4 separate regions of the Homo sapiens genome follow, and regions 1, 2 and 4 are each linked to region 3. Evidence: fine-mapped expression QTL. A gene starts in region 3. Each other region holds a variant in brackets. All regions are shown on one strand. Distances are from middle to middle. Region 1 has its middle 73 kb from the start of NPIPA5. Region 2 overlaps RRN3 (RNA polymerase I transcription factor RRN3). Region 3 holds the start of NTAN1 (N-terminal asparagine amidase). Region 4 has its middle 15 kb from the start of MIR3180-4.

Region 1 (8,474 bases), 250 kb before region 3:
GAGAAACAAACTCCCATACAGGATTACACATATGTGATTTTTATTAAGGGAAATGCCCTTGAGAGAAAGCAAAGAAGGTGCCACATAAAGCTGGGAGAACCTGAGACAGTAATGCAAGTCTGACTCTGAGTAAAAGAGAGAGGAGAAAAAAGTTAGGGTGCGAACACCATAGGGAAGTCCCTAAGCCAAAGCCGGGGACAGGGGAATCCTGTGTCTCCCGGGGAGGGGTCTGCTTTAGTGTCCCTGCCATGCTCAGTCATTAGCCAGGAGCACCTCATGGAAGGAAGCATATGGATTCCCCAGCGCAGCAGCTGGGGCCCTGGTTAATTACACTCCCAGTAGAGGCAGGTCGATGAGGCCCATTCTCAGGGCCACCACGTGGTGAGCCATGCAGCACTGGCCTGGCAGAACATTTGTCTGGGTTCATACAGTATTTACATTAAAAAAAATCAGGGCTGGGTGCTGTGGCTCACACCTGTAACCCCAGCATTCTGGGAGGCCAAGGCAGGCAGATCACTTGAGATTAGGAGCTGGAGACCAGCGTGGCCAACAAGGGGGAAACCTCATCTCTACTAAAAATACAAAAATTAGCTGGGTATGGTGGTGCACCCCTGTAATCCCAGCTACTTAGGAGGCTGAGGCAGGAGAATTTCTTGAATGTGGGAGGAGGAGGCTGCAGTGAGCTGAGATCATGCCACTGCACTCCAGCCTGGGCAACAGAGTGAGACTCTTGTCTCAAAAAAAAAAAAAAAAAAATCAGTCGCCAGCATTCAACAAACTGTGTATTTTACATCTTTAAAAACCCCTGGATTTCCTGCTTCTCTTTAAAAAATAGTGGCAGTTTGGCAACATTGGGAGTCCATTCCACAAATCTTGCAAAATTGAGTCCTCGCTGCCTCCTTAGATAGGGTGTGTGCTCTCTAGTTTGCCACAGTCTCCACCAGACCCAGTTGCCCTAATCTGTACTCTTCACTCATTTGTGTTACTTGTCTGCCCATGTGTGCATTTAAGTTTGCAACCCTTGCCTTAAATTCATCTGAGAAACAAACTATGGCAGTCAGGTTCAGCCATAGAATCTAATGGGAAGGAGCAAAGCTGGAGATTGAGCGACTAAGCTAGAGGTTGATAAAGCAGGAATAGAGCAGGTAGCTGGAGTCTGAGCAGACAGACTTCAGGGCTTGTCTGCCTTCCTAAGAGCTCCTTTGCTGGCTGGGTGAAGTCACTGAGAACCTAAGCAGAGGGTGTCAGTTCTAGCCTTCCTGGAGAAATCTTAGTTGAGATGGATGTTTAGAGCTGGTGGACACTGCCTTTGTGTCAAGCCAGTCTAGGAGTCACAGCAATATTTGGACACTGGTTGAAAGTTGTTTCATCCCATCCCACTTGCTCAGCAATTTGGACAAGTGTGGGTTTAGGTTATTTTAATTGGTTAATACCCTTTTGTTTAGGTGCTCTCCTTTCCTCTTCCACATGGTTCAGTAAGGCTGCCAATTCTAGAGCTCTTTCTTCTCCTATGAAAGTCATGGATGTCTTAGGCTGGGTTTTCCCAGAGGCAGATCCTGTGATGAGGATTTCCATGTAATGGTTTATTTGTAGGGTGACTCTGGGAAGCACCAGTAGGAGAATGGGAGTGTATTAGTCAGGGTTCTTTAGAGAAGTAGAACCAATAGAATAGCACACACACATACACACACACATATGCATATACATATACACACACACACACACACACACATATATAAGCATATGGGGAATCCATATGCTTCCTTCCATGAGGTGCTCCTGGCTAATGACTGAGCATGGCAGGGACACTAAAGCAGACCTCTCCCAAGGAGACACAGGATTCCCCTGTCCCCAGCTTTGGCTTAGAGACTTCTCTATGGTCCATATATATATATATATATATATGTGTGTGTGTGTGTGTGTGTGTGTGTGTGTATATACACACATGTATATGTACACACACACACACACACACATATATGTGTGTGTATGTGTGTATATATATATACACATACATATATGTATCTATATGCACTTTTATATACATACATTCACATACATATATGTATCTATATGCACTTTTATATATATGTGTGTGTGTGTGTGTATGTGTGTGTGTGTATGCAATTATGGAGGCTGACAAGTCCTAAGATCTGCAGAATGAGTCAGTAAGCTGGAGACCCAGGAGACCCAGTGGTGTAGTTCCAGTCTGAAAACCAGCAGGCTTGAGATCCAGAAAGAGCCGTGTTTCAGTTTGAGTCTAAAGGCAGGAAAATTTTGACGTTTCAGTTTGAAGGCCCTCAGGCAGGAGGAGATCTCTCTGACTCAGGCAAGGGTTGGCCTTTTGTTCTATTTAGACCTTCAACTGATTGGATGAGGACCACGCACATCTGGAGTGCAACCTGCTTTCCTCCGTCTACCGATTTAAATGTTAATCTCGTCTGAAAACACCTTCACGGGAACACCCAGAATAATGTTTTACCAATTATCTGGGCACTCAGCGTCCCAGTCAGGTTGACACATAAAATTAACCATCACAGGGCAAAATGAGACAAGGAAATCTAAACCAGAATAGAGCAAGGTAATGAGTAAGTTACTTCTATGGGCAGCCGGGGCTTGGTCCTTTTGATGGGCTTTGGTTGATGGCATGGAACACACCTCAAAGTGTCCCACCTGAGTGTTGAGAAAACTGAGATATTTATCTTTCATCACTCATCTGACATTGACCAAGGGATTCTCTCAGGGACTTTGACATCCTTGAACTTCTGGCCTGTCTTGCCGAGGCCGAGAAAAGGCCTTCAGGTGGGGAGTTGCAGGTGCTTGCAGAGGGAGGCCTTCAGCTTGTATGGGATGGGGAGGGTCCAAGGGACATGGGTGGCCATTGCCAGTGTCTGCTATGGTTGGTAAGTGGCACATATCTGGTCAAACATCAGGCTCTATCCACCCAGCAGTGTTGGACCTTGGAGTGGCACAGGCATCAGAATCTTCCCTGGGGATTAACTTATTGTGGTTCTTGAACAGAGAGGATATATATCTGGAGGTGCCAGCCTCTACTTGCCCTCCCACATGGAGAGAGATGGAGAATAAGGCTGAGCAAAGACAAACAGTGAAGAGAAATGGAGACAGAGAGAGAGAGAGAGAGAGAGAGAGAGAGCGAGAGAGAGAGAGAGAGAGAGTATACATGTACTTTGAGGCAGTGAGTCCTGTTTCTAGTCCCTGGGGCTCTGGTTCTTTTCTCTTCCTGTCTTAGTCTGTTTTTGCTGCTGTAACAAAATACCCAAGACTAGATAACTTATAAAGGACAGAAACTTATTTCTCACCGTTCTGGAGGCTGAGGAGTCCAGGATCAAGGCACAGGCACATTTTGTGTCTGGTAAGGGGCTCTGTTCCTTACTTCTAAGGTGGTGCCTTGTGTCCTCTGGAGGGCATGAATGCTGTATCCTCATATGTGGAAGGTGGAAGGGC[A/G]AAAGGGCCTAAGTTAGTTCCCTCTACCCCTTTATAAGGCATGAATTCATTCCTTAAGGGCCAAGCCCTCCTGACTGAATCACTTCCTAAAAGGCCCCACCTCTTAATACCACTGCAATAAGGATTAAGTTTCAACATGAATTTTGGAGGAGACACATTCAAACCTTAGCATTCCCTTTCCGTAAATGACCTCAGCTGGGTAAACCAGTATATTCGTTTCTTGATTAATTTAGCCAGAGTTAGATTTCTGGGCATGCAACCAAAAGCTCTTACTAACAGTTACTGTGGTGGGATAGGGATGGGGGGAAGGGAGATTGGGATTGAGAGAGAGATTGCCCTGGGCCTAAGAGCTTTCTCTCCTTATTACATCCCAGTGCCTGAGATTTAAGTTGCTAGAAGGAAGATGAGTTTATGGTGGAAATTTGTAACCGACCATTAACTAGAATGGCACAGCTAAGACCCTGTGCCTGACCAATTGTTAGGACTTAAAGAAATAGCAATAAAGAAAGAGCTTTTAGTTTTGGAGCTTAATTAGCCATTCTTTTCCTTCCTGACTTTTAGTTTTATGACTCTAGCTTCCAGGATAGAATTTTATTGTAGTCAGATACAAATTAAACCCAAACAAGGACTCTCCCGTGTTTCTGTTTCTTCAATTTAAATTTATTCTTTGTAGGGTGACACTAAGTACCACAGTATATGTCACATGTAAGAACAGTAAATTTTTAAAAAAGAGAGACAGGGCAAGCATTTATCATTGTGATCTCTTCTCTAAACATAATGGGAACTTAGGTTAATTAAAAAAAAAAGTTAATGCCGTTGTTTTTTGCCTTAAGAAAGGTAGGGTTTTTATCTGAAGTGCTCTGAGAATTGGCACTCTTAAATCTGCAATGATGAGAAATAACAGTAGCTACCATTTGTTGAAAATCTATTAGTAGTATGCTAGGTCCTTAACCTTCAGTATCTCTAATTACCCCAAGACACTTGAAGGATGGATGGTCTAAAGTTTCCATGTGTGCAAAATGATAGCTCTGAGAAGACTTAACCAATGTTTCAAAGATTTAAAAAAAAAAAAAAAAAAGGAATTGGAGCCAGTTTGCATTAAGACCTTTTGAACTCCAAAAAATCTATCTATGTGCTTCCGACTTGAAAAGGGTATGTTTTGCATGCTGGATATGGGTTTGGTGGAGGTGCTGGTGTATACACTGTATGTTTCAATGTTAGACATCGTGCTGGGTACTGCACTTAGTAGGCACCTGATCGCATTTCTGTTCGGCAAATTCAGAAAATGTGAGCGACTGAAACTTCATTAGGTTGAAGGGGAATTTACCTTTTCACTACGTCTGAGCAAAGGGTTTATTCGGTAAGGTATATTTATATTATATTATATTATATTATATTATATTATATTATATTATATTATATTATATTAGTGCCCCATGGAAATTATATTTGTTTCTCTACAGATAACAAAGATTCTTATTTCTCTCTTAAAATTCAAAATAAAGAGTCTTACTGACATCTACCATAAATCCTCTGCTGTAACCAGGTAGAGTATAAATAACTCCATAAAAAGAGAGTAATGCTGTCTTGCATTTGCACAGCACTTTACAGTTTAGAAAGTATTTGCTTGCCATGTCCCTTTCGATCCTCCTGATAGGTTTGCGGGGTAGGAAGGAGAGGTACTGTCATTTCCATCTTCCTGGTGGGAAACAAACATTTGGAGAAGTTGGGTGACTTGCCCCAAGGTGACACAATAGTGAAGGGTTCAAACCAGGACTTAGTTAGTTTGGGTGTCAGAATGGGTCAGAGTGGGTTTGTCTTAGTTAGTTTGGGCTGTGTATTAGTCTCTTCTTGCATTGTTATAAAGAAATACCTGAGACTGGGTAATTTATAAAGAAAAGAGGTTTAATTGGCTCACAGTTTTGCAGGCTGTACAGGAAGCATAGCTGAGGAAGCCTCAGGAAACTTACAATCATGGCAGAAGGTGAAAGGGAAGCTGGCATGTCCTACATGGCTGGAGTAGGAGGAAGAGAGCAAAGGGGAAAGTGCTACACACTTTTAAACAACCAGATCTTGTGAGAACTCACTCACTGTCATGAGAACAGCAAGGGGCAAGTCTGTCCCCGTGATCCAATCCCCTTCCCCCAGGCCCCTCCTCCAACACTGGGGATTACGATTCGACACGAGATTTGGGTGGGGACACAAATCCGAACCATATCAGGCTGCAAATAACAAAATAGTATAAACTGGATGGCTTAAGCAACAGAAATCTATTTCTCACAGTTTTGGAGGCTGAGAAGTGCCACAATCTGGCTGATGTAGCTCCCAGCGGACCCTCCTCCTGGCTTGCAGAAAGCTGCTTTCTCTCTGCATTCTCACATGACGGAGGAAGTGGGGGGTGGGGGGAGCGGAGGTAGAGAGGGAGGGAGGGAAGAGGAGAGACAGAGCAAGAGAGCAAGCCGTCTGGTGTCTTTTCTTGTAAGGATGCTAATTCCATCACGAAGACCTCATCCTCATGATCTCATCTAAACTAATAGTCTTCCAAAAAAGCCCACCTCCTAATACCATCATAATGGAAGTTAAGGCTTCAACATATCAATTTTGAGGGGACACAGTTCAGTCCATTGGACTTAGAGTTCACACTTCCTGGACAAGATTTTGGAATGTTGTAAAGTTTCTTCAGAAAAACAACTATTTTCCCCCAAGCATTTATAGCCCACTTTAGCAGCACTCAACTGCATGCCTCTGATCTATATGCTAATTTTGGATCCGCCTTATCTCTTAAGGAATCCAAGAGTTTGTGTGTGTGTGGATGCTCCTTGATTTGAAATCCTTATGTGCTTAGAACTAATGGCGTTGTAAAACACACTCCACAATGTACCCTTCTCTAATTCAGCCTGATTTTCTCCCATCCCTCCACGTTAGCCAGGCTCCCATGCCCCTGTTTTTGATCACGATTGATTGTCCAGCTCCAAAGCATCATCTGAACGACTTATGGTCTTTCTCCCGAGTGTTGGAGCCCAGGGTAGGCAGATGGGAGAGGGTAGGGGATTTGAACCGGGGAAAGACATTTAAATTTCCTCCTGTTCATCTTAGCTTAGGAAGTTACCTGCTGTCTGAAGGGTGTATCCCTATTTTATTATTTATTTATTTTTACAAAACCAAGGGAAACCAACAACGAACGCAAGAGGAGCTCCTCTGCCTCTGATTCCAGTAGCTGTGTTCTCAGGTTGGAGCAGCCAACCCAGAAATTGGTGGCCAGTGGCTAGGGTCAGGATGAGCAGAGTGAACGCGAGTTCTATGTCTGATTATAAAAACTGTACTTGCTCCTTATGGAGAATTTGAAATCTAGGGAAATTATAAAAATGTAAAGTGTTATCAGTCCTTTGTCAGCCATTGGGCTGGTTGGTTGGTCAGAAGTCATCACTGTTATAGACCCTCATTGCTTAATGAAAATTAATTTGTCAAGCGATTTCCTTGATGATGCTAATATTTATTGAAAGGTTACCCTAGGCTGAGTTCTGGCTAACAGCTGTATATGTGTATACTTTTATTTTCCAAGTGAAGAAACAGGCTCAGAGAGGGTAAGAACTTACTCACGGTCACACAGCAACTGAGTGGGGCGGCTAGAATTTGGGTTCAGATAGTCAGACGTTAGAGTTCAGGTTTTTCATCCCTTCAACATCTACACATTTTTCAAGAAATAACAAGATTCACTTTTGGTTTGAAGAGGAGTGCATGGGAGAGAAAGAAAAGTACCAAATGGGAAAAAGAGAGAGCAAGGAAACCAAACTCCGTTTGTGGTCATGAGCTACATTAAAAAAAAAAAAAAAAAAAAAGCCAGGCCAGGGACAATGGCTGGATTATGCCTGTAATCCTGCCACTTTGGGAGGCCAAGGCAGGAGGATCAATTGAGGTCAGAAGTTTGAGACCAGCCTGGGCAATATAGCGAGACCCCATCTCTACAATTCTTTTCTTTTTTTTCTTTTTTTGAATTAGCAAGGCGTGCTGGTGTGCACCTGTAGCCACAGCTACTGGGGAGGCTGAAGTAGGAGGATCGCTTGAGCCCAGGAGTTCAAGGCTGCAGTGAGCTATGATCCCACCACTGCACTCCAGCCTGAGCAACAGAGTGAGACTCTCTCTGAAAAAACAACAACAACAAAAACAAAAACAAAGCAAAGCTGGTGGTTTCACATGAGTGTTGCTCCTTCTGGAAAGGCATCACTGGAGTGGGTGCCATATTTTGATGCTGCTGCTGCCAATGATGAGAACATGGGCAACCTCTTTTGCCTGTAATTTTTTTTTTTTTTTTTGAGACAGTCTCGCTCTGTCGCCCAGGCTGGAGTGCAGTAGTGCATTCTCAGCTCACTGCAACCTCCACCTCCTGGGTTCAAGGGATTCTCCTGCCTCAGCCTCCCGAGTAGCTGGGATTACAGCTGCCTGCCTCCACACCCAGCTAATTTTTGTATTTTTAGTAGAGATGGGATTTTGCCATGTTGGCGAGGCTGGTCTCAAACTCCTAACCTCGTGATCCACCCGCCTCGGCCTTCCAAAGTGCTGGTATTACAGGCATGAGCCACCGTGCCCGGCCAAGAGAGACTTTTCTACACTTTGTAATTATGTTATTTTTAAACTGAAAACTGTGTTTCCTATTTCTTAGTGTTAGAAAGAAAGAGAAATCCCTCAGAACAATCAGCAGCCTGGAGCATAGTTTGAGACTCCCACTAACAGAGCCAAGAGTCTCAAACTAGGCCAACAGATACCCTTGGGGAACCCTGCTGTATCCCTGGGACATAAAAAACTACAGTACAAACATCATCATCTTCCTGGAGGATGAATAAACTTTAGTAGAGTAATAGTAACTTAAAACACATGTGGCACAAAATAGAACGCAGAGTTCACAAATACCTAAGGTAAAATAAGACTTCAAAGAAAATTTCACCTTTGCAGAGGTTATTTTGGGCTACACTCCACAGAGTATGAATTCATTCTCTTTTCCTCTCAGGGAT
Region 2 (8,474 bases), 22 kb before region 3:
AATAGCCTGGCATTTCTTCAAGGTTAAATGTAGAATTAACACGTGACTCAGCAGTTCCATTTCTGGGTTTATACCCAAGAGAAATGAAAATATATGTCCACAGAAAAACTTGTACATGGATGGTCATAGCAGCATCATCCATAATAGCCTCAAGTAGAAGCAACTCAAATGTCTGTCAACTGATGAACAGACAAAACATGGTACAATGGAATATTACTCAGCAATGAAAAGGAATGCTTTATATGTTACAACATGATTGGACCCTAAAAACATGCCAAAAGACTGTGTATTATATGACTCCATTGATATGAAAGGAATGGTTTACATGTTACAACATGATTGAACCCTAAAAACATGCCACAAACTGTGTATGACTCCATTGATATGAGAGGAATGGTTTACATGTTACAACATGATTGAACCCTAAAAACATGTATTATATGACTCCATTTATATGAAATGTCAAAGAGGCAGATTCATAGAAAGACTAGTGGTTGCCAAGGTCTTCATTTTTTAGGGGTGCACTAATGGATGTAGGATTTCTTTTTAGCGTGATTAAAATGTTACAAAATTGCTGGCTGGGCGCAGTGGCTTATGCCCATAATCACAGCACTTCAGGAGGCTGAAGTGGGAAGATCCAGGAGTTGAAGACCAGCCTGGGCAACATAGTGAGAAAATGTCTCTCTAAAAGGAAAAATTAACCTCATGTGGTGGTGTGCACCTGTAGTTCTAGCTACTAGGGAGGCTGAGGAGGAAGGATTGCTTATCCTGGGAATTCAGGGTTGCAGTGAGCTATGATTGCACCACTGTACGCCATCCTGAGAGAGAGAGCAAGACCCTGTCTCTAAAAGAAAAATAAATGTTCTGAAATTGATTATGTTGATGGTCTCATAACTGAATATATTAAAAACTTAAATTGTATACTTTAAGTTGGTGATTGTATGATATATGAGTTTTATCAATACAGCTACTTAAAAACCTATAGTTATGCAAATTAAAAATTTCATTTACTGGGAATAATTGAAATGATTATACCGAACATAATACATGTAGAAACAGTATAGTTTTTGTATTGCTGGATAGTCTGTTTTTTTCTTTTTAAATATTTGAAACTAAAGGTCATGTAATTGATGTTTTGCTTACATAACTGTGAAACGTTTATTCTCTGTTGAAATGTTTTATCTTACATTTTCTCCTTTAGGAATGTTACGTTCATAACTTACTAAGGATTAGTGTATATTTTCCAACCTTGAGGCATGAAATTCTGGAGCTTATTATTGAAAAACTACTCAAGTTGGATGTAAGTATTGAGTAATCTATTTTTATTTTCATTTACTGACTTGAATTTGTTATAATCACAGTATGTGGAAACAATAGTCAGTGATAGAAAAGAATCCACTTGGCCAGGCGTGGTGACTCACGCCTGTATTCCCAGCACTTTGGGAGGCCGAGGCAGGCAGATCACCTGAGGTCAGGAGTTCGAGACCAGCCTGGCCAACATGGCGAAACCCCGTCTCTATAAAAATACAAATAAAAAATTAGCCAGGCATGATGGTGGGTGCCTGTAATCCCAGCTACTCAGGAGGCTGAGGTGGGAGAATTGCTTGAATCCGGGAGGCAGATCTTGCAGTGAGCTGAGATCGTGCCACTGCACTCCAGCCTGGGCGACAGAGCGAGACTCCATCTCAAAAAAAAAAAAAAGAAAAGAAACCACTAGCACCATTCTTTGCTTCCTTTCTTTGAATGTGTGCATGTGCTGGGAGTTGTAGACAGTTCCTTCTCATGATTGGAGAACAAGGCGTTAAATACATAGTTATCCAAATGTAAAAGTATGGTTGTGGAAAATGCTATGAATGAAACATACATTATGAGTTAGAGAACCTGATAGAATCACAGTGGGGTCAGGAAGGGATTCTTACGGAAGTGATTTTTCCTGTTTGGCCTTTCTTAAGGGCAGATTATAATTATAAACAGTTAAAACTTTGTTTAAGGAGGCCCGCACTAAGGTGCAGTGGGAATGAAAGGAAGTAGTAGATTCTAGTGACATTGTCAGGAAAGATGAACTGGTGCTTGAGACTGGTTTGGAGGAGGGGAGGCAGACAGTAAGGGAAAGGAATCCTTCAACTTTGCTCCCTGTGGAATTGAATCTTGGTGTTGCCATTAATGGTAGTTAGAAATATGAAGAGGAGGCCGGGCGTGGTGGCTCACGCATGTAATCCCAGCACTTTGGGAGGCCGAGGCGGGCGGATCACGAGGTCAGGAGATCGAGACCATCCTGGCTAACATGGTGAAACTCTGTCTCACTAAAAATACAAAAAATTGGCCGGGTATGGTGGTGGGCACCTATAGTCCCAGCTACTCGGGAGGCTGAGGCAGGAGAATGGTGTGAATCCGGGAGGTGGAGCTTGCAGTGAGCCGAGATTGCGCCACTCCGCTCCAGCCTGGGTGACAGAGCAAGACTCTGTCTCAAAAAAAAAAAAAAAAAGAAAAAAATACGAAGAGGAGGCAGTTGGAAGAGTAGTTCCATCTTGGCCAGGTTCAGTTGCTGGTGGGCAGCCTACCAGAGAATACTCACAGGCAGTCGTGGCTGCAGATGGGGACCTGAGCATAAACCTTTGGAAAGATGCAGTTTAGGACAGGGGAGGAGAAGGGTGATCAGAAGTATGGGGAAAACCAAGAGCCTGGATGCTCAGGAAGGATCCGCCGGAAGGAGGAGTTTGGTCAGCAGCATCAGATACTGCTGTCATTTTTTAGAAAGATGAAAAGAGCAACAGTCCTTGGATTTAGTGGTTAGAAGGTAGTCTTTGTTGCTTTCTGGAGGACCATGTCAGTGAAGACGCAGAAACTGCATTTCGGGAGAGGATGTGGATGGTGGGGAAGCAGAATTGGGGCTGTTAGAGACCTTGGTGCAGGGTTGTGGTGGAAGGAGGGGATGGAGCAGGGCTAAGAGGCGTGGTTTAGGAGTGGAGAGACGTGAGCAGGTTTGTGGACTGAGGGGAGAGGAGCTTTGGTGGAGGAAAACATTGATGCTATAGGAAAGCAGGAAGATGGAACAAGGTCTCAGAAGAGCTGGAGCTTGGGCTCACTGGTGCAGTGCTCACTTGGAGTTGCACCTCTCTGGCCAACTGTATATGTACTCTTTATAGTCTTTCTCTGGTATATACTTAAGGAACATTTTAGAATGTTTACAAAGAAGGTCAAGCATAGATAATAAAAAATGGCATGGTTTGAGTGGTATGTTAAGATATTTGAATGGTGATATACCAAAATAAATATTGCATCATGCACATTTGGCTGGCAGTTCATCATTTTTCTGCTCAGTTGATTGACGATATGTTTATTACACAATGTGTCTGTGAGTGTCTTGTGCATAGAGATTGTATTAGTCCATTTTCACACTGCTGATAAAGACATAGCTGAGCCTGGGAAGAAAAAGAGATGTTTTTGTTTGTTTGTTTGAGATGGTGTCTCGCTTCTTGCCCAGGCTGGAGTGCAGTGGTGCGATCTCGGCTCACTGCAACCTCCACCTCCGGGGTTCAAGCAGTTCTCCTGCCTCAGCCTCCTGATTAGCTGGGATTACAGGCACATGCCACCATGCCCGGCTAATTTTTTGTATTTTTAGTAGAGATGGGGTTTCACCGTGTTAGCCAGGATGGTCTCAATCTCCTGACCTCATGATCCGTCCACCTCGGCCTCCCAAAGAGCTCGGATTACAGGCGTGAGCCACTGCACCTGGCCAAAAAAGAGGTTTAATTGGACTTACAGTTCCACATGGCTGGGGAGGCCTCAGAATCATGGCGGGAGGTGAAAGGCACTTCTTACATGGTGGCGGCAAGAGAAAATGAGGAAGATGTAAAAGTGGAAACCCCTGATAAAACCATCAGATCTCTTGAGACTTATTCACTATCACGAGAACAGTATGGGGGAAACCTACCCTATGATTCAAATTATCTCCCACCAGTCCCCCCCCAGCAACATGTGTGACTTACAGGAGGAGTACGATTCAAGATGAGATTTGGGGCCAGGCGCGGTGGCTCATGCCTGTAATTCCAGCACTTTGGGAAGCTGAGGCCGGTGGATCACCTGAGGTCAGGAGTTCGAGACCAGCCTGACTAACATGGAGTAACCCCATCTCTACTAAAAATACAAAATTAGCTGGGCACAGTGGCACATGACTGTAATCCCAGCTACTCGGGAGGCTGAGGCAGGAGAATCTCTTGAACCTGGGGGGCGGAGTTTGCGGTGAGCCGAGATCTTGCCATTGTATTCCAGCCTGGGCAACAAGAGCAAAACTCTGCCTCAAAAAAAAAAAAAAAAGTGATTTGG[G/T]TGGGGACACAGAGCCAGACCATATCAGAGCTAGAATAAATGTTGAATTTGTTGAGGCTGCCTGGCATAGAGCATCATGTGATAGTTGTCGATTTTATATAAGTATGTAGTAAAAGGGGCTTGGTTTATTATATTTAAATTCCTTCATGACCTAGGTCAGTTTACAGGCTTGCACCATAATTGTGTATTGTGTTGGGGTGTGATATAAGGCACTAATCTGGACACCTTGAACATGCGTATATCAGATGAATTTCCATCCCAAAATAACATAGTTGTATTTTTTAAATCCTTTTATTCTTTTTTTTTCTCCCTTTGTTATAGGTGAATGCATCCCGGCAGGGTATTGAAGATGCTGAAGAAACAGCAACTCAAACTTGTGGTGGGACAGATTCCACGGAAGGATTGTTTAATATGGTTAGCAGTTTATTAATGAAAGTGGAGATGAAGTTTATCATAAAGGGTGGAAACAGCTAGTGCTGCTCATCTTTGTTAAGGCTTTAGATTGAAAGAATTAAAATAGTTCAGCAAACTTGAAAACGATTCCTTATATGAGTAATTTGCTGCCATGTCATTTAGCACTTAGCATAGTTGGTCTATTTCCAAGGCTTTGAATTTGGGTTTGGTGAAGTATGTTTCACTTTTGTTCTTGTAACTTTCAGTGTTTGTTTTTGTAAGCCAGATGCTGTCTGTGAGGGCGTGGTTAATAGAAAAGCATACCTGTTTAATTTCTGCATTTTACCACTTGTACACTTTATAGCATTACTTCTTTTGGGTGGTATCTGAAGTTGGGTTCAGTGGAAGGAGAGTCTGAGACAGGGATTCAGGTGCCCTTGGGACAGAGGGTGTCAGGGAGCAGAAGAGGGCAGGGGAGCTAAACGGGGGCCGGGTCTCACTTGGGAGGTCGCTACAGCCTGCTCCCACCAGGCATTCTGGGGCATGGATTGGTCTACAGAGTTTGTTCCCAGCTTGAGACCAAGGAGATGTCCTTTTCTGATGCCTTGTCAATCAGTCATTGGTTCTAAGGGGGAGGGGCTGGAAAGAGTGCAAGGGTGGTCCTGGCTCCTTTCTGCTCAGGGCAGCTCTGGAGAAAGTAGGCGGCTGTGAGCTATTGGCCGCCAGTACTCACAGCAGTGGGGAGGTGGATATCCCGACCTGCAAAAGGGGGCCCGGCACCAAAAGCACCCGCCATGGTGGGCACCAGGAGCAGAGGTAGGGGGCATCTGTGATTTTTGCATGGATAGGTCTCATTGGGTCTTCTCAATGAGAATCAGAAGCTGGTGCTGTGAGTCTTGGCTTTTATTTTAAATTTCACTGGTGGTTCTGATTCACATCCCTGAATGAGACCCCTGCCTGGAAAGGTGTCTGCATTTCTTTCTTTCTTTTCTTTCTTTTTTAATTTGAGACAGGGTCTCACTCTGTTGCCCAGGCTGGAGTGTGGCAGTGTGTGATCTTGGCCCACTCCAGCCTCGACCTCCTGGGCCCAAGTGATCTGCCCACCTCAGCCTCCCCGAGTAGCTGGGACTACAGTGTACCACCGCACCCAGCTACTTTTTTTCTATTTTTGTAGAGACAGGTCTCACTGTGTTGCCCAGGCTGGTCTCAAGTTCCTGAGCTCAAGTGATCCTCCTGCCTTGGCCTCCCAAAGTGTTGGTAATTATAGGCGTGAGCCACTGTGCGTGGTCCATTTCTTTGTTTTAGTTTAGTTTTTTTTTTTTTTTTTTGGTGGGGCACAGAGTCTTCCTCTGTTGCCCAGGCTGGAGCACACGAACTCGGCTCACTGTAGCCTCCTCCACCTCCCAGTTCAAGCTATTTTCCTGCCTCTGCCTCCTGAGTAACTGGAATTACAGGCGTGCACCACCATACCTGGCTAATTCTTGTATTTTTAGTAGAGACAGAGTTTTACCATGTTGGCCAGGCTGGTCTCAAACTCCTGACCTCAAGTGATCCCCCCACCTCTGCTTCCCAAAGTGCTGGGCTTATAGATGTGAGCCGCTTTCCCCAGCCTCTTTGTTTTATCTTTTAAGGGAAATAATCACTTATGACAGTTTTCCTACTAAACCACTTTGACATTGAATTTTTTAATGTTAGTATTTACTTTTTGTCTTCAAAGGATGAAGATGAAGAAACTGAACATGAAACAAAGGCTGGTCCTGAACGGCTCGACCAGATGGTGCATCCTGTAGCCGAGCGCCTGGACATCCTGATGTCTTTGGTTTTGTCCTACATGAAGGATGTCTGCTATGTAGATGGTAAATCACAGTAGCTACTGTTTATTGAACACCTGCAGTGTACCTGGCTTTGTGCTGGGCATTTTCCATCCATTATCTCTAGTAATACTAAAAATCCTGTAAAAATATCTATTGAGTATGAGTTTAAGATGATTTAAAGAGGTCAAGTTACTTGCCAGTCACATAGCTTGAAAATGGGACTGGGATTCTGGCTGAGTTATATTTGTCTTCTGTCTTTTCACTGATTGTTGTATTGAAAGATTATATATGGAGTTTGGCCAGTTTTAGATCAAATTACGCTCAAGTTGCTGAATGCACTGAAGAATGATGTAGGGTGCACTAATATATGGTGCTCCGTTATGTATTGAGTTTAGAGGGTCTTTGCCTGGCACCATTGTTGTGCCAGTGTTAGTACTATATGTGCTTCTTGACTTCATGGAACTTTAAAGGCTTTGCCAGGCGAAAACAGAATTTTTTTCCATTCACATTGCTAAGATTTAAGATGAGCTCAGTGAGTCAGAATAATAGAACTGGAATCTGAGTTGACTGCATTACTGTTTTAACGGTCTTGCTGTTATAAAAATAATACATGTTGATTAGAGAATTTGGAAACTACAGGAAAGGATAAAAACAATTTAAATGGCCACATTTCTACTCTTCAGAGAACCATTGTGAGCATTTTGAAGTTTGACTTTTTTCCCTTTTCTGTTAGCGTCTGTATATGTAGGAGAGTATTTTTTAGTGAATTTGGGTGTCACACTAAACACAAGTGTTTCATAATCTGCCCTTTACATGGATGCTGAAGATAAACATTTTCTCATATCATTGCCTGTTTTAAAATAATTGTTATTGAATCCCAGCACTTAGGCCAAGGTGGGAGGATCACTGAGGCCAGGAGTTCAAGACTAACTATCCTGGGCAACATAACAAGACCCCATCTCTAAAAAAAAAAGTCGTAATAATAAATGTTGTTGGTCACATGGGTTTAACTGTCTTTTACTGTTTTCACCATGATAAGTAACAGTTATAATGAACATACTTGTGCCTATATATTCAGCTGTTTACTAACAGTAAAATGATCGGATTAGAGGTCTTTTGCTACACGAATGATAGAATTGCTCTTCAGAAGGGTTTGCATTTCTGACCTTGCCACAGTGTGTGAGGTGAGGGCCTGCTTCCTTGCAGGTGTTAGATTATTATATTCAGAGGAAAATCTGTGTAAACTAAAAGTAGCATTTTGTTTTAATGGTATTTTAATGGATAATGTCTGTCTTTCTTTTTTTTTTAAATAGCCACGGTCTTACTCTAACCCAGGCTGGAATGCAGTCGCACAAACATGGCTTACTGCAGCCTTGACCTCCTGGGCTCAAGCGGTTCATCCGCCTCAGCCTCCCATGTAGCTGGGATCACAGGCGTGCCACCATGCCTGGCTAATTTTTTGATTTTTTGTAGAGACAGAGCTTCCCTGTGTTCCCCAGGCTGCCCTTGAACTCCCGGGCTCCCTCTCACTTTGGCCTCCCAAAGTGCTGGGATTGCAGGCAGGAGCCACTGTGCTTGGCTGGATAATGTTGTTTTTTAATGGTGTTGTGTTTATAAAAAATATGGCAGATGAAACTTGAAAATATGTCTTTATAAAAACTGAGATGCCAGATTTTCTCCATAGGTAAGGTTGATAACGGCAAAACAAAGGATCTATATCGCGACCTGATAAACATCTTTGACAAACTCCTGTTGCCCACCCATGCCTCCTGCCATGTACAGTTTTTCATGTTTTACCTCTGTAGTTTCAAATTGGTGAGTAAGAATGTGATTAACATTATCTTAGCTTACTTTGTTTTTGCCCAAAAATTTTCCCTAAAAACTGGGGTGGACGGAGACCATGAAGTAAATAATTCTTTTCTTTGAGCTTACTTGCTAGTC
Region 3 (7,674 bases):
TAGAATCAGTCCCTTGGAGTGCTGAGAAACTAAGGATGCCCAGGCTCACGTCACACACCAACTCAACCTTTGATTGAATCAGTCTCCAGAAGAGGGGTCTGGACATGGATGGTTTTTAAAGCCCCCTGGTGATTCGAAGGTGCAGGCTGCCTTGAGAACTGTTCATTGGTGTACAACTGCATACTTTTCTTGTTTCAACTAATTGAACATCCAAAGCTCCACCATGTTTTCTTCCATCAAATGCTTTTGTGTGTTTCAGTCTGACTCTGGATGGTTGAGTAGGATTTATAATGTATCTAATAATTTGGGGCCAGGTGTGGTAGCTCATGCCTGTAATCTGAGCACTTGGGGAGGCCAGCAAAAGGATCTCTTGAAGCCAGGAGTTTGAGATCAGCTGGGGCAACATAGTGAGACCCCCATCTCTACATTAAAAAATTTGAAACACAAATTGGGATCCTTTCACTAAATATTTACTAAGGTTCTGTATAATGTTCATCATTCTTTTTTTTGAGACAAGAGTCTCACTCTGTCACCCAGGCTGGAGTGCAGTGGTGCAATCACAGCTCAACAACTGCAACCTCCGCCTCCTGGGCTCAAGTGATCCGCCCACCTCAGTCTCCTGAGTAGCTGGGACTACAGGTACGCACCACCATGCCTGGCTAATTTTTGTATTTTTAGTAGAGATGGAGTTTCACTATGTTGGCCAGGCTGGTCTTGAACTCCTAACCTCAAGCAATCTGTCCGCCTCGGCCTCCCAAAGTGCTGGGATTACAGGCGTGAGCCACCATGTCTGGCCTCAAAAAAGTGTAATTTAAAAAATATTTCCCTGTATATATTCTTTGAACTTTGCCATCAGCCATCTTGTGAGGCAGGTTGGTTTCCTATCTTAAAGAAACAGGCTTTCCAACATTGTAATTAGTGCTTTCTTTTTCTTTTTCTTTTTTTTTTGAGACGGTCTTGCTGTAATCACCCAGGCAGGAGTGCAGTGGCACAGTCGTGCCTCATTGCAGCCTTGACCTCTAGGGCTTGATTGATCCTCCCGAGTAGCTGGGACTACAGGCCTGCCACCATGCCCAGCTAATTTTTGTATTTGTTGGAGAAGCAGGGATCCCTGTGTTGTCCAGGCTCGTCTCGAACTTCTGGGCTCAAGTGAGTCCTCCTTCGGCCTTTCAAAGTGCTGGGGTTACAGGCATGAGCCGCAGTGCTGGCCACACACCTGCTATTGCTTCCTCATTGCCTGTAGACCAAAATTTGTGGAGCTGGGTGGGAAGAGAGGTAGGGGAGTGGTTTCCTGCTTGTTATCTGGCTCATTTAGTCCTTTAACACAGTACTCAGCCTAGGAGATTGATAACCTGAGATTACTTGAAAAAAGATCACCCAAAAGTGAAAAACCAGTTAGGCAAACTGCACCAGCCCCAGGCAGAACCCACAGAACCTTGTTCTTCACCTTTGCACTTCCAAATGCCTCACTTTGATTGACTACTCTTTGCTCTGCAATTCCAATAATAGCTATCTTTAGTGTTTAGTATGTACCAGGTGAAACAAACATGCTATTCTACAAAACCAGTTCAGGGAAGTTAAGTAACTTGCTCCAGGCCAGCCTGCTGGTCATTGATCACCCTGGTTTCAAACCCTGTTTTTAGCTCCGAGCTTCCTAGTTGGGACTTACTTAATGTCACCTGCATTAGAATGAGTTGTTTACAGTACAGTCTAGGAGCATCTTATAGTGATGGAGAGCACTGCCTTTGGAATCATGCAAAGCTAGGTTCAGTCTTCGTTCTACTACTTATTTCTACCACTTTGAGCAAGTTACTGTATCTGTTATAACGGAGGTGTTGATAGTAGCTCCTACATTTGTGAGGACAAATGACAAATGAGGTGTTGATAGTAGCTCCTACATTTGTAAGGACAAATGAGAAATGTAGGTGTAATAATACAGAGAAATAATTTCCTGGTAGCTAGAAATAGAGTTATTTTGGGTGAGAAGTTGGGTAACCTGGCGATGGGAACACCATCTTCTACAGTCATTTCTTTAGTAAATTTCCTGGTATTTTTGTTGAACGGGGTGTGTAAGCTGAGGGGGAGATTTATGAAAGAAGACGATGAATACAGATGATAAAATTCTAATAAAGTTTCTGCTGTATCATGTGGCTCCTCTGTATCTTTTGTAAAATTACTTTTTGTTAATGTGCTGCAGAGTTGGATGAATTTGAGCAATATTTCCAAGTTTTAGAAGAGAGCTCCACGGTGAGACGCCTCTCACCTTGGGGACCTGTCCTCAGATTAGGGGCTCTGCAGTCAGTATCCGCAAATCCTTCCCCCACGGTTCCCAGCCCACCTGTGAGTGGCCTATTGCATTCCAATCACGACGTGTTAATCGATGATCTCTTTAGTACGTGGGGCTAGCACAGTTCAGGATCTATTTTCTCAGTTTAAGACCGTTTACATTTATTTTTATTATTTTCAGAAACAGAGTGTCCCTCTGCAGTGCCCAAACATAGCTCATTGCAGCCTCCCACTCCTGGGGTCAAGAGATCCTCCCGCCTCAGCCTACAGAGTGGCTGGGATCACAGGTGCATGCCACCGTGCCCAGTTAATTTTTAAATTTTTGGCAGAGACGAGGGTATGGGGGAGGGTGGGTCTCACTATGTTGCCCAGGCTGGTCTCGAACTCCTGGCCTCAAGCGATCCTCCTGCCTCGGCCCCCCAAAGTGCTGGGATTACAGGCGTGAGCCACCGTGCCCGCCTGATTAGGTTTATTATTACTCATTGAATGCAATCCTACGGAGCTGCACAGCAGGGTCCCAAACTCAAGCTTGTGGAAGGTCACACACCTGGGAAGCGTGGAGCAATGACCTAAAGCGCAGCAGTCGGAGCCAGAACCCGCCCCAGGAACTCGCCCGGAGGCTCTCTTGGCTGGTGCAGCTGCTCCCTGGCAGCTCTCCTTTCCCCGCTCCTTCACTCCCACGCTTTTGGGACTACACTTCCCAGCGCCCCTTGCGGAGGAGGCGGGCCGCGCGCTGCTTCCAGGGCCACTTCCTGGCTTTGGACTACATTTCCCGTGAGGCCTTGCGGCCATGTCCTGGATTTCTCCAGTCTCTTCGGCCGGCACCGCCTCCGCCTGGACTCCACTTCCCGGCAGCGCCCGCGGTGGGGCGGGGCAGGACGAGGCGGGACGCGCGGCCCGAGGGGCGGGGGCGGCGGGCGGCCCGGGGCTGCAAAGCGGGGGGCCGCCGCCTCCCTGGGCCTGCCTGGGCGGCCGCCTCCGCGATGCCGCTGCTCGTCGAGGGGCGGCGAGTGCGGCTGCCGCAGTCAGCCGGGGACCTCGTCCGAGCCCACCCGCCTTTGGAGGTGAGTGGGGCGCGGCGCGGGGCTTCGGGGCGGGCCCGAGGGGAAGCTGCAGGGCGGGCTAGCGCCCCCCTCACGCGACACAGACTTGAAACTTGGCGCTGTTGGCACATCCGGAGCCCCGGCCGTCGGCTCGCGTCTTCCCCTTGAGGGGTCGGGGAGTTTTTGCCTTCTTTAGACTTCAGCGGGCTGCCCCGGAGGCCACTCTCTGACAAGGGAGGGGACGGGGGCCCAGAGAGGTTAGGTGACTTGCCCAAGGTCGCACAGCACTGCGGCTCGGGGACACGCCGGGACCCCCATTCCCCGACGGGGCGGCTGCAGCCCCCATAGGGCTGGGTCCGTTTAGGCAAATCCGGCCGCCCGCCTTCGGGGACCCGCAGCCTGCGGTGAACGTTGCTTCGTCCTTGCGTCCCCGTGAAGCAGGAGGTTATTCCAGGGTGGGCTTCGGAGAGCGTTTGGCCTGGGGGATCTTGGCGGGGACCCCCAGTCCTTCCTCCTCTCTCTCCCCTACCCCCGGGGCGTAGGGCGCCGAGTTATTTTTAGCCGGGAGAGAGAGCCCTGCTTTCCGCAGCTGGGCCATAGGACCACGCCCTGATGCACGGGTTTTGTTTTTGTTTTTTCTGCTTTTGTGCTCAAATAGATCTCTGAACTCTTGTCCACGCTTATGCAGGGACTGTTGGCAAGGGGGTTCTCAGGTTTTAAAAAGAGCGGGGCGTGGCGGCGGGGGCAGACGTCCTATTTGCCATAGATCCTGTTAAAGGGGAATCAATCAGTTCCTTGATTTGAGAGTCAAATATCGAGCCCCTAATATCTGTTGGGCAACGTACTGATCACTGTCCCTGCCCTCGGAGTGTTTATAGTCTAGAAGGGAGAATGGTTTCTGATGAAGAAGGCTCAGATACTATAAACTGTTAAGTACCATAAAGAAAAAGCGTCCCCTTTCACTCTGAGATGGGAAGCACAGGAACCTGACCAAGTGTGTTGGGTTGGGGAAGGCATTTAGAGGTTTCATCTGTCACAGCTGTACAGTTTGTGATTATTTTGTTTGCTTGTTTGTTCTCTATTGGTCTGTCGCCAGAATGTAAGCCTCCTGAAGGCAGATAAGAGTAGTGTCCTCACTTTTGTATCCTCAGAGTGTAGGACGGTCCCTGGCATAGAATTGGCGCTCAGTAAAGATTTGCTGCATAAATGAGGTCACAAAATGACCCCTGAACGTGTTCTGAAGGGTGACAAGGACTTACTGACGGGGAGAAGGCAGACAGCTCTGTGTGATTCTCAGCTTGCATTTCAGGACCGACCATCGTCTGTTAGCCAACATGCACCGAGCTAGGCGTGGTGGCGTGTCACTTTATCCTTGCGTTGTGTTACTGTCCTGTTAGCTAGCGAAGTCAAGAGTAGGACTCACCAAGGAAAAATAATTTCAGCCGCCTGAAGAATTTAGGGGATGCTCTACTTTTATGTCTGTTTGAAAATGTCCGTGATAGAAAGTTAGATGGGTGTCCCGGGCTGCACACTTAAGTGTGGAGGGAGATTTGGTGACATACCGGGGCTGCTTCTCTCGAAGGAAGGTTTTGGCCTATTTAAGAAGACATGTCCTAGAAAGGCTGTGTACTGGGGACCAGTTTGTGTTACAGGAACTTTGGAAGGGGGCGATCACTTTGATTTGCGGCAGTGTAAGTGAAGAAGGATGCAGGCACGAGAGAGATTTGAAAAGGAGAAGAAGGGTGAGGGCATCGCAGCTGGGCAAGCCGCCTGGGGCGCGGCGGGCAGGAGGGGAAGGGCCCAGTGGGTGGGTGTCCTGGCCAGTTTCTCCGGAGCAGCCCGGGTGAGGAGGGGAAGCATGGAAAGTAACCTTACAGGGGTGGATTGTACCCAGATGACCAAATGACCAAGGGGCTTAGATGGACCTTTCACCTACTTAGCAACAGGGAGACATTAAAGGTTGGGTTTTTTGTTTGTTTGTTTGGTTGGTTGGTTTTTTTGAGACTTAGTTTTGTTCTGTGGCCCAGGCTGGATTGCTGTGGCACAATCTCGGCTCACTGCAACCTCTGTCTCCCAAGGTTCAAGCGATTCTCCTGCCTCAGCCTCCCAAGTAGCTGGGATTACAGGTGCATGCCACCACACCCAGCTAATTTTTTTATTTTTAGTAGAGACGGGTTTTCACCATGTTGGCCAGGCTGTTCTTGAACTCCTGACCTCAAGTGATCTGCCCGTCTCGGCCTCCCAAAGTGCTGGGATTACCGGTGTGAGCCACTCCACCTGGCCTGGATTATTTTTATATAATAAAACAGGGTGTCCTCTTTGTAGGAAAGCAAAATATAATAATACAGAAAAAAAAGTATGACTACAACCATTCTTTAGTTTGGTGAAAGTCCTAATGAAGGTTTTTCTTTGTATATAATTTACTTTTTTTAAAAAAATGATAGCTTACTATATGTTGTTTTATAATGTGTCTTTTTCATGTAACGATGTGTTCTGAGTATGGAGTACCAACAGTTAGAAGCCTGTGTGTAGCTATGACTAGCAAATAATAACAATAAGTCATACAGTGGAAGCTGCCAAGCACCACAGCAAGAGTTACTGCTATTCCCATTTTACAGATGAGGACTGTGGGGCACAGAGAGGCTGGGAAACTGGCCCCAGGCCCCACATCCTGGGAGTGGTGAAGCCAGGATTGGAACCCTGGCAGCCTGCCCTTGACTCTGGAGCTGCGCTATTCAGTACAGTAGCCACGAGCCATCTGGTTACTTAGGATTTAACTTAAAAATCAATTAAAATTAGATAAAATTGAAACTCAGTTCCTCAGTTGCAGTAGCCACATTTCAAGTGCCGAGCAGACAGCATGGCTACTAATGAGACAGTGTGAATATAGACGGTGGCCATCCCAGCATGAAGTTCCTTTGGCCAGAGCTGTTTAGAGCCCTCCCTTAGTCACTCTTAACCAGTCACTGGGTACTCGGTAACCAGTCCTGCAACATCTTGGGTAATACGGTTCCACAGAGTCTACAAGATGCTCGCAGCGTAGCTTAGTTCCTGCTTTTATTATTTATTTATTTATTTTTTTTTTGAGAGACAGAGCCTTGCTCTGTCACCCAGGCTGGAGTGCAATGGCACGATCTTGGCTCACTACAACCTCTGCCTCCCAGGTTCAAGTGATTCTCCTGCCACAGCCTCCTGAGTATCAGACATCTGCCACCATGCCCGGCTAATTTTTGTATTTTTAGTAGAGATGGGGCTTCAACATGTTGGCCAGGCTGGTCTGAAACTCCTGACCTCAAGCGATCATCTCGCCTCGGCCTCCAAAGTGCTGGGATTACAGGCGTGAGCCAGTGTGTTGGGCCTCATAATTTCTTATATAGCATTGTGCTTTACAGTTCACAGATCACCTTCATGCCCCTCTCCTGTTTATAAAGGAAGAATTGATAAACAGGACAGCAGGGGTGAGGGTCACATGATCATCCCCCAGGTCACAGCTAGGTGATTGGCTAAGACACAGGTCAACAAGCCACAGCTCATGGGCCGGACCCTGCTTATGTATAGCCTATAGGCCAAGAATGGTCTTTATATTTCTCAAAGGTTGAGAAAAATCAAAATAATATTTTGTAACATGGGAAATGGTATTGAAATTAAAACTTCGGTGTCACCTATAAATAAAGTTTTATTGGAACACAGCCACATCTGTATTGTCTATGGCTGCTTTCACTTCATAATAACAGCAGAGTTGAGCAATTGTGACAGAGACTGCGGCCTTGTAGAACCCCAAATATTTACTGTCTGGCCTTTTTCAGAAAATCTGCTGGTCACTGGGTTAAGAGAATACTGCCATTGAATAGGAACTGGGAAATAGGGATGAGGGACTGAGGGAAAAGCTTTTTTTTTTTTAAGCAAATATTAGTGTCTAGAGCATATTAGAGGTTAAGAAAACTGGGACTACTTGCATATGAATTTATAAAGTAGGACTGTGTGGTTTTCCAAAGAAGGGAAGTTTGGCTAAACTCTTTTTACTACTTAAAAGAGCAAAAATTAGCCAAGTGTGGTGGCGTGCGCCTGTGGTTCCAGCTACTGCAAAGGAGGCTGAGGTGGGAGGATTGCTTGAGCCCAGGAGTTTGAGGTTGCAGTGAGCTATGATCTGGCCACAGCACTTCAGCCTGGGCAACAGAGTGAGGCCTTGTCTCTAAAAAAAAAAAAAAAAAAATTAAAAATAAAGTAGAGGCTGGGCACAGTGGCTCATGCCTATAATCCTAGCACAAGTGTGGTGGCGTGCGCCTGTGGTTCCAGCTACTGCAAAGGAGGCTGAAGCAGGAGGATCACCTGAGGCCAGGAGTTC
Region 4 (8,474 bases), 110 kb before region 3:
GATGTGGCTGGAGAAGCTGTGCTCCTTTTCAGAGCTAGAGGTGAACCTTGGGGTCTGGAGTTGGGTAGATCAGGAGCCGAGAGGTGCAGGGAAAGTGGCCCTGTGTACCTTTGTGGTATTGGAGGCTTGCTTTTGGGGATGCCAGAGGCACCACTGGCCTTCTTCTTCTTTTTTTTTTGAGACAGAGTTTTGCTCTTGTTGCCCAGGCTGAAGTGCAATGGCGCGATCTCAGCTCACTGCAACCTCTGCCTCCCGGGTTCAAGCGATTCTCCTGCCTTAGCCTCCTGAGTAGCTGGGATTACAGGCCTGTGCCACCATGCCTGGCTGATTTTGTATTTTTTTAAATAGAGACAGGGTTTCTTTATATTGGTCAGGCTGGTCTCGAACTCCTGACCTCAGGTGATCCACCTGCCTCGGCCTCCCAAAGTGCTGGGATTAAAGGTGTGAGCCACCGTGCCTGGCGGCCTGGCCTTCTTTTATCTTTCCTGAACACTATGAGGTTGTTCCTGCCTCAACACCTTCAGGCATGATATTCCCTCTGCCTTGAAGGTTCTTCCTTTTAGGCTCAAGGTGGCGAAATTCTTCTCACCATTTGGGTTTTGGCTCGAATATCACTTTGGGCCAATCTGTTGTTTACTGCCATATTCCTAGCCTTGAGAACGGTGTTGAATGAATTATAAATTTACCATGATTGTCATTTTATAAATGAGAAAAAGATTTAGAGAGCTGAGATAACTTGTTTAAGGTCACATAGCCATTACGTGGAAGAGTTGGGATTTGAACTCATGGTCTTCAAAGCTGTGGTCTTACCACTATACTATATTTAACCTCTGCGATGAAGGAAGAAGTATATATTTAGTCTTTGTCCTGGTTCCTGACACAGAACTTCTAAAACCCTTGGAATTTCCTGAATGATGGGTTTAGGGGAGCATCTTTTGTTGTTCATAACAAGTCCCTTTCAACGATTCCTGAGTTTTCGCAAATGAGGGGACTCTTGGTGAGCTCTAGATAGATTCAGGATGGGGCTGGCTATAGAGAAACCAACCTCATGATTAAAAGGTTGGAGGAGCTATTAGGCTCATTGCCCACCCCAAATCTTACTTCCCACCTCAAGGAGAGGAGAGAGGCTGAAGTCAACAACCATTGACCTAATCACCAAATAGCCAATGGTTTAATCACACCTATGTAGTGGAACCTCCATAATACTAAAGGATGGGGTTCAGAGAGCTTCTGAGTTGGTGAGTGCATGGAGCTGGGAGGCTGGTGTGCATGGGGCCCTTCTCCCATCCTTCCCCTATGCTTCCCTTCCATTGGGCTGTTATTGACTTTCATCCTTTATAATAAACCAGTAGTAGTAATTAAAACACTTTTCTGATTTCTGGGAGTCATTTTAACAAATTATCAAACCTGAGAGTGGGTTGCAGGAACCCCCGATTTATAGCTGGTTGCTTAGGAGTACAGGTAGCAACCTGGGATTTGCAACTGGCCTCAGAGGTTGGGGGCCTTCTTGTGGGTTGGAACCCTTCACTCATAGGGTCTGACGGTAACACCAGGTAGGCAGTGCCAAAGTTTAATTTAATTATAGAATACCCAATTGGTATCCACAGAGAATTGGAGGATTGTTTAGTGTGAAAATTCCCGTACATTAGGTGTGTAAAAAGTTCATAACTTCCATCTGTGAAATAAGATGATAACTCCTATCCAAATTAGCAAATATTCAAGCATGAGTCTGGCAATGCCCTAGACACTGGGATACCATGGGGAAGAAGAAGGCAAGGGCTCTCGCTTCGTGGAACCCACAGTCTGGTGATTCACTGCAAGAAGAGTGTGGTGAGTGCAGACAGGGGACACCTGGGGAGCAGGCGCTGGCCAGAGTTGAAGACTATGGCATGATGGAGAGGACTGTTCTAGGAAGAGACGTCATATGTGGCAAGAACCTGGTGACTTTGAGGAGCTGACAAAAGTTCTAGTTCACTGGAGGGTAGATGAGCAGTTCAGGGGTGGAAGATGGAGTTCCTCAAGGTAAGAACCAAAGGGACAGAGAACTTGAACTTTATCCCAAGGACACCAACCTATAACAGAGACTCAGGTCTCAGAATATTGAAGACATCTGGCGTCAGGGCATTTCTAGGTAGCTCTTATTTGCCTTCGTAACCAAAATACCCACCCCCGGTTTGATGGTGTTTCTTAGCTAGGTGGCCATATGGGGGCCCAGCCTCAGGAGGTAAATTAATTAACCATTTAATTAACCACCCAATCAATCAGTCAATCAATCAGATAACTAGCCAACAAATTAACTCAGCAGTTAGGTACTGAGTGCCTGATATATGCTACATACTGTTCTAGATGATTGGTGAGGGAACATTGAATGAAAAAGCACAGGTCCTGCCTTCATGGGGTTTCTCAGGGGAAGAAAGAGTAAATGGATAAGTACAATGTGCAGTGTGTCAGGTGGGATAAGAGTGGCGGGAAGGGATACAGCAGGAGGGAATAGCAGGTGACAAGGAGGAGAGAGGCTTACAGAAATAAATAGAGTGAGAGAGAGGTGACATTTGAGCAAAGTCCAGAGGGAGCTCAGGGAGAGAGCAGGTGCAAATGACCTTGAAATGGAAGCGTCCTTGACATGTTTGAGAAGTGGCAAGGAGGTTGGTGGGGCTGGAGTGCAGGGAGCCTGGTGGTCAGTAGTTGAGATCAGATGGAAAGAAGCAAAGCCCACCGTCTCTGGAACTTGAGAACAAGCATCCCCAAAGCCCTCCTGGAAATTGTAACAAGGTTTTCCAGGCTGTGGACCTGTCAGCTGAAGCAGTTGGTGCTGACTGGCTGGTGTTAATTACATGTCTCCAGCTCTAGCTCCTCATCCAGGGTGGCTTAACTTGGATTAAGTCTTTGATTTAATGCAAGGTTTGTGTCCCATGTGCTTAAGAATGTGGCTTGATTTAACTGTGGAATCTATAAATTGACCTTCCAGCTGGGGATCTTCTTTTTAATCTTTCAATTAGATCTAAAGATGCTCACTCTGTTTGCAGAGGGATAGATACCATTGCATGTCAAGGACTTTCACATCTGTATAGGAGACCCAGGGGAGATTCAGTTGACTTGGGCTATTCTTAGAAGAAGCCCTAGCTGTTCTGGGGATAACCTTCTCCTTTGCAATATACCCTACGTACCTATCAGGAGGCAAAATAAGAAAACCCCAAGCAAGAACTTAAAGGGAGAAAAACACTAACATGGAGGCTCAGTTTTCTTGGCATGAAAAAATAGCCTATTGTTTTTTGCTTAAAAAAATAAGAGGAAGAGGGGTTGGGAAGAGATACCTCCAGGTTTGGCCATTCAGTCATTCAGACTATTTATTTAATAACTTTCATGTGGCAGTCACTCTCCTGGGTGTTGATATGACAGTGAGCAAAATGGACAAAAGTTCTTGACCTCATAGATCTACATTCTAGTGGGATGGTGGGAAGGGAGAGACATTTTAGAAATAGGAATAATGCTACATGTTAGAGGTCAGAAAATGCTACAAAGAAAAAGCAGAGCCAGGGCCCAGGGCATGTTGAGAGGGTTGGAGTCCCAATTGTAAATAGGGTGGTGATAAGGTTTGACTCTGTGTCCCCACCCAAATCTCATCTCTAACTGTAATCTCCGCATGTCAAGGGAAGGACCTGGTGGGAGGTGACTGGATCATGGGGGCTCTTTCCTCCATGCTGTTCTTGTGATAGTGAGTGAGTTTTCAAGAAAGCCGATGGTTTTATAAGTGGCTGTTTCCCCTGCTCTCCTCTCTTGCCTGCTGCCATGTAAGACATGCCTGTTTCCCCTTCGGCCATGATTGTAAATTCCCTGAGAACTCCCCAGCCATGCAGAACTGTGGGCCAATTAAATCTCTTTTTTTTAATAAATCACCCAGTCTCAGGCAGCTCTTTATAGCAGTGTGAAAATGGACTAATACAGGTGGTCAACATTTTCTTTTTGTTACTATGAAAGAAATTATTGGGAAAATTGGTGACATATTAATAAGGTTTGTGGATTAGATAATGGTATTAAGTCAATGTCAATTTCCTGACTTTATATGGTAGTTACCTAAGAAAATGACCATGGTCTTAGGAAATACACACTGAAGTGATTAGGGGTAAAGGAATATCATGACCCCAACTCATTCTTAAACAATTCATAAAAAAATACAAATGCAATATGTATGTATCAAGAAAAGATGATAAAGCAAGTGTGGTAAAATATTGACGATTTTAGGAAGACTAGGTAAAACGGGTTTATGAGAATTTTTTTAAGACAGTGTCTCACTCTATTGCCCAGGCTGGAGTGCAGTGGCACAGTCACAGCTCACTGCAGCCTCGACCTCCTGGACTCAAGCCATCCTCCCACTTCAGCCTCCCAAGTTACTGGGACTGCAGGTGAGCACCACCATGCTTGGCTAATTCTTTCATTATTATTATTATTTTTGTAGAGATGGGGTCTTGATATGTTGCCCAGGCTGGTCTCGACCTCCTGGCCTCAAGCAATGCTCTCAGCTCAGCCTCCCAAAATGCTGGCACTACAGGCGTGAGCCACCACACCCAGCCTGTATATGAGCGCTCTTTATACCAAGCTTACAACTTTCCTGTTAGGATCAAATTATTTCAAAATCTAAAAAAAAAAAATTACAAAAATAAGCAAGGTGTCAAGGAACCATCACAACTTCTTATGCTCATCTCCCACCCCTCTGCTGTTCCATGTTCAACACAATCACTTTACTGAATTATGTGTCACCCTCTTCTTCCCTCTCCGCAGCTCCTGTCAAACATTCACTTTCAGAATTTTCTGCTTTGGTTGGCTCTGCCAGAAATGGCCTTTTCTCCTTTTCTCCCTGGAAAACTCCT[A/T]TTCATCCTTTAAAGCCCTTCTCTGTAGAAATGTATCTTTGTTGTTTCCTATTCTCTCAGAAGAGAAGAAATAACCCCTTCCTCTGTGTCTTGTTTATTATTATATTATTGGATGTGAAACATTATTGTTTTTGTTTCAGTGTAAGTCATCTGCTCTCTCCTCCTCACTGTGAGTATCATGTGTCTCATAAGGCATGGGTCTCATTCATCTTTCTGTCCCCAGCCTAGACTACTACCCAACCCAGAGTGGAAGCTCAATAGAACTTTGCTGAAATGAATGGAAAGTTCTGATTGTCTGATTGGAGCACAGGAGCTTGGGGGACAGTTTGCACAGTGAAAGAAGGGGTCCTGATGGAACAAGCTAGCATCAGTTCAGTTCGGTCTGCAGAAAGACCTTTCTATGGTGGCGGACATTGACATATCTGTAGTCAAGGTAAAGCTGTCTAGGGAATCTTGCAGGGCAGAGACACGTCTGCAGAATATTTGCATCATAGAGCTGAGGACAGTAACTGGGGGCAGGGCAGGAGAGTCATGGGAATGAGGTCATGCATAGAAGTATGACTTAACTTGGTCTAAAAATAAATTGCTGGTGGTAGGTTGTCCAGTTACCCTTTGTCATTAAATGACCGAGACTTCTTTTGACCAGGATTCTTGTTAAGTTTTCTTGCCAGGCTGAACTCTAAAAATGACACGCATTCAGGGCTGAACAGAGGCTCACAGATCATTAATCCAAACTCCATGGAATGCTCGCACTCCCTCATTACTTTGATACCCCTGGTTTTTAAGGCTCAGAAGAAGGGTGACCCTGAATGTTAACCCTCCAAGTGGAATGTAAAACACACGACTGTTAACGGACCTATTTCAGTCTCTCTGGGTACCTTGGGAACAGAGATTCTATGTGATACGTGACACAATTTTCAGTCATTGTAGCTATCGATATAGTTCAAGCGAGGCTTTTGCCCAAAGTGGGGAGACTCAGGCAAAAATAAATTGGGGCAGGAACAGTAGAGTCATGTGGGTTCTGTAGGAATCTGCTAATGAGGGAGAAAAAGAGAATACCATGAAATGGAATAGCATGCTGGTTTTAAAAAAGAGTCTTTAAGAGTCTTGGAGACAAACAGCTCTTGGCTTGAGTCACAGCCCGGTCATTCACCAGCCGTGAGACCTCAGGCAAGGCACTCATCTTCTTTGAGCTTTAGTGTCTGCATCTATGAGGTGGGAATAATCATCACAGTTACCTCAAACGGTCCTTAAAAGGATGAAATTACTTAATGCTTGTAAAGTACTTAGTATAGTGTATGACATCTAGGAAGGGCTCAATAAATTTTGTTAGTAACAACAACATAATAAAAATTATTATTTTTTAATTTATCATCATCATTATTACTTAGAGACAGGATCTCGCTGTGTCACCCAGGTTGGAGTGCAGTGGCATGATAATCAGTCACTGCAGCCTCAAACTCCCGGGTTCCAATCATAGGTCACTGCAGCCTCAAACTCCTGGGCTCAAGTGATCCTCCTGCCTCAGCCCTGAGTAGCTGGGGCTACAGGTGTGCACCACTGTACCTGGCTATTTTTAAATTTAATTTTTTTTTTAAATTAAACTTCTATGTTGCCGAGGCTGGTCTTGAACTTCTGACCTCATGTGGTCCTCCTGCCTTGGCTTACCAAAGTACTTAGGGGTTACAGTGCAAAGGGATTAAAGACGTGAGTGTTCCACTGCAGCTGGCCTGATTTTATTTTATTATTTATTTATTTATTTTATTTTATTAGTTTTTTTAATTTAATTTTTTTTTTTTGAGGCAGAGTTTTGCTTTTGTTGCCCAGGCTGGAGTGCAATGGTGTCATCTCAACTCATCACAACCTCCGCCTCCTGAGTTCAAGAAATTCTCCTGCCTCAGCCTCCCGAGTAGCTGGGATTACAGGCATGTGCCACCACATCCGGCTAATTTTTTGTATTTTTAGTAGAGATGGGATTTCTCCATGTTGGTCAGGCTGGTCTTGATCCGCCCACCTCAGCCTCCCAAAGTGCTGGGATTAAAGGCTTGAGCCACCACGCCCGGCCTTATTTATTTATTTTTAAAATTATACTTTAAGTTCTGGTGTACATGTGCAGAATGTGCAGGTTTGTAACATAGGTGTACACGTGCCATGGTGGTTTGCTGCACCCATCAACCCATCATCTACATTAGATATTTCTCATAATGCTATCCCTCCCCTAGCCCCCCACGCCCTGACAGGCCCCAGTATGTGATGTTCCCCTCCCTGTGTCCATGTGTTCTTATTGTTCAATTCCCACTTATGAGTGAAAACATGCAATGTCTAGTTTTCTGTCCTTGTGATAGTTTGCTGAGAATGATGGTTTCCAGCTTCATCCATGTCCCTGCAAAGGACATGAACTAATCCTTTTTTATGGCTACATAGTATTCTGTGGTGTATATGTGCCACATTTTCTTTATCCAGTCTGTCATTGATGGGTATTGGGTTGGTTCCAAGTCTTTGCTATTGTGAACAGTGTGCCTGGCCTAATTTTAAAACACAAATAATGGACCTCATTTTCTAGCCTGTCTCCTCTATTATTCCATGAGCATTTCAGAGCAGTGCTGTGTCTGATATATCTGTGACATCGCCTCATCCCCTGCAAAAGCTGGCACAGAGAAGGTGCTTGGTGAATGCATTTCTTGAAGTGAGTTAAAGCCACCATTCTTGCAGCCTAGATTTTGTTTCTAGGAAGGGCACCATGTCCACCTGGTTCACAGCTGTGTTCTGAGCACGGAGCATGGCACCTCGCACATGGTGGGCAGTTAGACATTTGTGGACTGGTAGAGGAAGGAATGATAGGAGCAGCAACAAGGTTTCTGAGAACCATGCACAATCATGCCACATGCATGCACCAGAGACTATAGCCAAGGCTGCTGGCTTCTTAGGTGTATATTTCAGCACTTCTATATAACTTGTAACATTGTATTAAGTCTGATTTACTGATGTGCGCACAGTAAACACTGTGGAAGGATAGGTACCAAACTGTCCCCAGCAGTTTCCTGGGGGTTGGACCTCTTGCTTTTTATTATACACTTGTCTATTGCTTGATGCTTTTATAGTAAGCATGAATTACTTTGGCAATGAAAACACCAAATAAGATAAAGAAATAAAATATTGAAAAGGGAGAGGGGGAAGATGAAGAGGAAAGAAGAACAGAAATGAGCAGATTTTTTAGAAAGAAAAATGTCAGGCACAGGTGGGAGGGAGTAACCCTTGGTTGTGAATTTTGTCCCTCCCAGACCTCAGATATTACCCTCCAGCCCTGCAGGGAGCACTGTCTCCTCTTGGTGTGCCTTTAAATGTCAGGGTCCCACTGCAGAGAAGGGGTGAACTGAGGACATTTTCACACTTTTAGGGCAGTGTTTTGTTTGGAATAATGCTAACAACTCATGAGAGGAAAGATTTTTGCAGCTGGACAGATCTGGGTCAGGATGCCAGCTCCATTATTTGCTAGCTGGACAAGTTATTTCACCTCTTGAGATCAGTGCTTTAATCTCTAAAAGGGGACTAATAAATATCTACCTGCTAGCACTTCAGCCTTAGAGGACTAAGTAAGGTAGTAAA

What was found. PIP is the estimated chance that this variant, and not a neighbour inherited with it, causes the effect.
Region 1: its variant is the best candidate, but not a certain one, in a credible set for the expression of NTAN1 in unexposed skin (GTEx, PIP 0.85).
Region 2: its variant is the best candidate, but not a certain one, in a credible set for the expression of NTAN1 in left ventricle (GTEx, PIP 0.83).
Region 4: its variant is the best candidate, but not a certain one, in a credible set for the expression of NTAN1 in whole blood (TOPMed, PIP 0.54).

The regions. Positions count from the first base shown.
Region 1 is chr16:15,301,243-15,309,716 of GRCh38, reverse strand. No RefSeq gene overlaps it. Among named protein-coding and RNA genes, the nearest start is that of NPIPA5, 73 kb to the left of the region's middle. RefSeq lists enhancers at 5,488-5,989, 5,993-6,494. The variant A/G (reference allele first, on the strand shown) is at 3,466.
Region 2 is chr16:15,072,824-15,081,297 of GRCh38, reverse strand. It overlaps RRN3 (RNA polymerase I transcription factor RRN3), which reads left to right. Exons shown (of 18, transcript NM_018427.5): 9 at 1,202-1,300; 10 at 4,648-4,740; 11 at 6,437-6,575; 12 at 8,218-8,348. It also overlaps a transcript of PDXDC1 not described here. Among named protein-coding and RNA genes, the nearest start is that of RRN3, 17 kb to the left of the region's middle. The variant G/T (reference allele first, on the strand shown) is at 4,327.
Region 3 is chr16:15,051,567-15,059,240 of GRCh38, reverse strand. NTAN1 (N-terminal asparagine amidase) reads left to right here and starts at 3,167. Exons shown (of 10, transcript NM_173474.4): 1 at 3,167-3,350. The coding sequence starts at 3,270. It also overlaps a transcript of PDXDC1 not described here. RefSeq lists a silencer at 3,612-3,796.
Region 4 is chr16:15,166,071-15,174,544 of GRCh38, reverse strand. No RefSeq gene overlaps it. Among named protein-coding and RNA genes, the nearest start is that of MIR3180-4, 15 kb to the right of the region's middle. The variant A/T (reference allele first, on the strand shown) is at 4,869.